Linked DNA regions of Homo sapiens: region 2 is linked to region 1. Evidence: fine-mapped expression QTL. A gene starts in region 1. The other region holds a variant in brackets. All regions are shown on one strand. Distances are between the middles of the regions. Region 1 holds the start of PACERR (PTGS2 antisense NFKB1 complex-mediated expression regulator RNA). Region 2 overlaps PLA2G4A (phospholipase A2 group IVA).

Region 1 (2,922 bases):
TTATGCCCTGTTTTTCCCTCACTTTTGTATCCAAATCTCTTTTCAGACAACAGAACAATTAATGTCTGATAAGGAAGACAATGATGATGATCACTTCAAAATGAATTCAGGATTGTAATGTAAAATTTTAGTACTCTCTCACAGTATGGATTCTAACATGGCTTCTAACCCAAACTAACATTAGTAGCTCTAACTATAAACTTCAAATTTCAGTAGATGCAACCTACTCCTTTAAAATGAAACAGAAGATTGAAATTATTAAATTATCAAAAAGAAAATGATCCACGCTCTTAGTTGAAATTTCATGTAAGATTCCATGCAATAAATAGGAGTGCCATAAATGGAATGATGAAATATGACTAGAGGAGGAGAAAGGCTTCCTAGATGAGATGGAATTTTAGTCATCCGTGTCTCATGAAGAATCAGATGTGTACACTAAGCAAAACAGTTAAAAAAAAAACCTCCAAGTGAGTCTCTTATTTATTTTTTTCTTATAAGACTTCTACAAATTGAGGTACCTGGTGTAGTTTTATTTCAGGTTTTATGCTGTCATTTTCCTGTAATGCTAAGGACTTAGGACATAACTGAATTTTCTATTTTCCACTTCTTTTCTGGTGTGTGTGTATATATATATGTATATATACACACACACATATACATATATATATTTTTTAGTATCTCACCCTCACATGCTCCTCCCTGAGCACTACCCATGATAGATGTTAAACAAAAGCAAAGATGAAATTCCAACTGTCAAAATCTCCCTTCCATCTAATTAATTCCTCATCCAACTATGTTCCAAAACGAGAATAGAAAATTAGCCCCAATAAGCCCAGGCAACTGAAAAGTAAATGCTATGTTGTACTTTGATCCATGGTCACAACTCATAATCTTGGAAAAGTGGACAGAAAAGACAAAAGAGTGAACTTTAAAACTCGAATTTATTTTACCAGTATCTCCTATGAAGGGCTAGTAACCAAAATAATCCACGCATCAGGGAGAGAAATGCCTTAAGGCATACGTTTTGGACATTTAGCGTCCCTGCAAATTCTGGCCATCGCCGCTTCCTTTGTCCATCAGAAGGCAGGAAACTTTATATTGGTGACCCGTGGAGCTCACATTAACTATTTACAGGGTAACTGCTTAGGACCAGTATTATGAGGAGAATTTACCTTTCCCGCCTCTCTTTCCAAGAAACAAGGAGGGGGTGAAGGTACGGAGAACAGTATTTCTTCTGTTGAAAGCAACTTAGCTACAAAGATAAATTACAGCTATGTACACTGAAGGTAGCTATTTCATTCCACAAAATAAGAGTTTTTTAAAAAGCTATGTATGTATGTGCTGCATATAGAGCAGATATACAGCCTATTAAGCGTCGTCACTAAAACATAAAACATGTCAGCCTTTCTTAACCTTACTCGCCCCAGTCTGTCCCGACGTGACTTCCTCGACCCTCTAAAGACGTACAGACCAGACACGGCGGCGGCGGCGGGAGAGGGGATTCCCTGCGCCCCCGGACCTCAGGGCCGCTCAGATTCCTGGAGAGGAAGCCAAGTGTCCTTCTGCCCTCCCCCGGTATCCCATCCAAGGCGATCAGTCCAGAACTGGCTCTCGGAAGCGCTCGGGCAAAGACTGCGAAGAAGAAAAGACATCTGGCGGAAACCTGTGCGCCTGGGGCGGTGGAACTCGGGGAGGAGAGGGAGGGATCAGACAGGAGAGTGGGGACTACCCCCTCTGCTCCCAAATTGGGGCAGCTTCCTGGGTTTCCGATTTTCTCATTTCCGTGGGTAAAAAACCCTGCCCCCACCGGGCTTACGCAATTTTTTTAAGGGGAGAGGAGGGAAAAATTTGTGGGGGGTACGAAAAGGCGGAAAGAAACAGTCATTTCGTCACATGGGCTTGGTTTTCAGTCTTATAAAAAGGAAGGTTCTCTCGGTTAGCGACCAATTGTCATACGACTTGCAGTGAGCGTCAGGAGCACGTCCAGGAACTCCTCAGCAGCGCCTCCTTCAGCTCCACAGCCAGACGCCCTCAGACAGCAAAGCCTACCCCCGCGCCGCGCCCTGCCCGCCGCTGCGATGCTCGCCCGCGCCCTGCTGCTGTGCGCGGTCCTGGCGCTCAGCCATACAGGTGAGTACCTGGCGCCGCGCACCGGGGACTCCGGTTCCACGCACCCGGGCAGAGTTTCCGCTCTGACCTCCTGGGTCTATCCCAGTACTCCGACTTCTCTCCGAATAGAGAAGCTACGTGACTTGGGAAAGAGCTTGGACCGCTAGAGTTCGAAAGAACTCCGTGGATATTCCAGCTTTCCCACAAGCACTGATCATTATGAGCCAGTTACTTAACCGATCTGAGACACTCTCACCTCCTAAATAGGGATAGATGATACTAATTTGCAGGTTGTCATTATGATAAGACAGGATCTGATCAATATATGTGAATTGTTTATATTTGGAACCTTTTTATTGAGTGGAAGAAGTTGTTTTAAATATTCTAGTCAGTTCTTTCCTGCTCCCAGGAAAGCCCGGATTATGTTTTAAGATAAGCAAAATGTCTTAAAAGTAAGCTGTTTTACTTTGAATTTTTCCCTAAATGTTGATTAGTGTACTAGATCCATTTTAATTTGGAAAGTGAAGTGCTACTTATTTGAACTTCTTAAAAATGCTAATTTTAACATCTAAAGAGTTAACTAAGAAAAGCTTAGTAACATGATGTACCAAGTTGAATATGCTGTTATCCTTATTTAGAATAGAAAATTGGTATTTCTACGTTTTATCCATTCTAAGGCAGGTTAAAAAATTGTATTTCCATGACTACCTATATATTTCTTGAATTTATTATTGTAAAGTTGATTCATAGTCAAACAATTAAATGTTTAAATTAAGATTAAGACACTAGAGAATGATTTATTTGCTGTCCTTT
Region 2 (2,922 bases), 300 kb before region 1:
CAAAAAAATTAGCCGGGCGTGGTGGCAGGCGCCTGTAGTCCCAGCTACTCGGGAGGCTGAGGCAGGAGAATGGCGTGAACCTGGGAGGCGGAGCTTGCAGTGAGCCGACATTGCGCCACTGCACTCCAGCCTGGGCGACAGAGCGAGACTCCATCTCAAAAAAAAAAAAAAAAAAAAAAGGAAATGCTGTTACGTTTTGTGATGCTGCTCTCAAATTCACAAAAAGAAAATATGTAAAATCATAAATGTATTTATTAAAATTCATGTTATATTTTTGCAGATTAACTACACTTCTGGTTCCATTCACTTTCATACTCATATTTCCTTTACTCATATTTCCTTTTCATCACTTTTCTTCCTTACTTATAATTTGTTATATCATATAATAAATACATAGATACTTCGGGAAAGAAACTGAGTATTAACCAATCATTCAATAAAATAATAGCATAAAATGAGTTTCCTTATTTGTCAGTTTTGTAGGGTTCTTCTGAAGATTAGCAAAATATTTCATGAAAAGTAAAGTGGCATATTTTGGGTGGTGTCATTCATAACACTTATTTTTTTATTTTTAATTGAAAAGAGGTATTGGTGTATTTATACGGTATGGAAGTCATTTGACATAGTCAATGGCCATAGGAGATACTTACATCAATGTTGTTCAGAGTATTGAAGTGCATAAGATCATGTAGTCTTTTGAATGCTTGATTTGGATATTGAAAATTGAAGGTTGAAAATGGTGATTCTGGGTCATCAAAAATATCAAAGTCAGCGATTTCTTTCTCTTCCTCAGTTTCCCTTGGAACACCTAAATACCAGAAGAGTCACAAAGGGTGTTATTTTGAAAACTACAAAATATCTCTAAAACCCAAGGAATAAAACATACAGACATAAAGACAGCAGTGGGAGTCCCCACAGAGCCAGGTACTCTGTAGCATCTCTGACTTTTATCGTGTCTGTGTGTTCTGGCCAGATGACATCCAACTGCCAATATCTGACATCTGTGTGCCGGAGGGCTTTCTATCCTGCCCTGCAACTGTAGAAGCCTGCTTGACCCACTCACAGCAGGCTGGAAATTCTGTTAAATAACACTGTTCCCCAGGCAGTGGTCAACCAAAGACTCTAGGGAGTTAGAATCTAAATACTCCATTCCCCTGCCTTTTGGTGTGCGTGTGGGAAGCATGATTGTGGGACACAGGTCTATTCCATTTTGTAGTCTTTCCCAGCGGATCAAGTTCCCATTGTGGTAGCCGGCTTGCTAATGCAACTTTGTTGTCTGCCTTCCTTCCCTTTACCACTTCCCCATTTCCTTACTAATAAACTAGAGTGTTCCCCAGCTCATCTAAATAAACTATTTGCACTTGAGTCCTTTTCTCAGAATTAGTTTCTGGGAGAACCCAAACTAAAACATTATGTGGCTGTCTTTATGCCATGGAAATCCCCTACACATGCCAACTGCTCAGTGAGCCTCTCCTTGAGAATTCACAGTGATAGAAAATTCACTGGGTTTCATGTGCTCTAGTGT[C/G]TGATAACTAAAAATGTCAGATTTCCACCTTCTCCTATGCTGAACTATATGCTTCACAATAATCTTCACTCCTATCAATTCTTTCTTTGTCTTCCTGAGAAATCTAGAAAAACACCATTTTTCTCAGCATATTCCCATTACTCATCCTCCCTATTTTTTGTGTCTTTCCATTTATAAAATGGAAAACACATTTTCTGGTCCTAAAATATGGTTTTTGGAGCCTTAAGCACCCTGCATGTAAATCTTTAGATCTCCTTTGGTTAATCAACATTTTCCAGGATACACAAGAGTCGAGAGACCCCTCTGGATATGGTTAAAAAAATAAAACAAAACAAAAAAGACTATGCCTCAAACTTGATTCTTGTTTTCTGTGAAATACAACATGGCAAACTGAAACTGCTAGCCATTGTGTACTGCTAGATTACGTTAATCTTGTAGTCACGTAAAATTCCCAGAAATTTGCATGATTTTTCTGAAATAAGGGCTTTCTTACAAGGGTGATAGTCAAAATATTTGATTAAAAATCAATCAGAACAAACATAATTCAAAGTATTGAAGTAAAGTCCCAGAGATTTTTGCTAAACTGGTTGTTGACTTTGCAGTTTCTGAACTGTGAGCAAGTCAGGGGATCTTGGGGTAAGAAAGAGGAGAAGTACTTGAGGTCTCAGAATAGTATCTATTTATCAAGGTAAGGGAAGCATTCAATAGTGTAATAGCTGGTACAGCAGTGACAGAGTGAAACAGTTTAATGTCAGTTTCGTCCCCTACTTAATTTCTATTTTATGGAATACAGCTTACTCCCTACTTACCTGGAGCCCTGTACTTTCTGAAGTTGATGTTGGCCAGAACAAAGTGGATGATGGTTGGGCAATCTTTCTCCATATCAGGATTCTTGGGTTTAAAGACATAGCACTCCTTCAGCCCTTCCCGATCAAACACATAAGGATCAATCTTTGGAAAGGGGAGCTTGTTCATTTTAGCCCACTTTTCTGCAAGTAGAAGTTCCTATGGGAAAGATGGAAAGATGAATTTGGAAATTTTCAGTTTTCATTGATTCAGTTGGTCTGACCATAATTCAGTGTTCACTAGGTGTCTACTGTGTGCCAGCAATGTACTCCTTGCTAGGATGAATCACGACCCTGTTCTCAGGAAGTTCATTAATTTCAAAGAAATTGAAAACAAACTCACTATTGTTATGTTAATTCTTGGCACAAGGCTAGCTCCACAGCAGGCATTTGAAAAATTATTGATAAACTGAACTGAGCAAAATTATGTTGAAGAAGCTGCTAGAGAAAAAAAATTATGGGTTCAGAGAATTTATAACCATGTGAAAGTTTTTTTAACCCTTAGGAGTAAAAAAGGAATCTGATGATGCAGAGAAGAATCCTGTTACTGGA

What was found.
Region 2: its variant is fine-mapped to the expression of PACERR in whole blood (INTERVAL, PIP 0.96).

The regions. Positions count from the first base shown.
Region 1 is chr1:186,679,447-186,682,368 of GRCh38, reverse strand. PACERR (PTGS2 antisense NFKB1 complex-mediated expression regulator RNA) reads right to left here and starts at 1,715. Exons shown (of 1, transcript NR_125801.1): 1 at 923-1,715. It overlaps PTGS2 (prostaglandin-endoperoxide synthase 2), which reads left to right and starts at 1,946. Exons shown (of 10, transcript NM_000963.4): 1 at 1,946-2,130. The coding sequence starts at 2,079.
Region 2 is chr1:186,977,201-186,980,122 of GRCh38, reverse strand. PLA2G4A (phospholipase A2 group IVA) reads right to left here. Exons shown (of 18, transcript NM_024420.3): 16 at 2,335-2,530; 17 at 651-808. Among named protein-coding and RNA genes, the nearest start is that of LINC01036, 110 kb to the left of the region's middle. The variant C/G (reference allele first, on the strand shown) is at 1,526.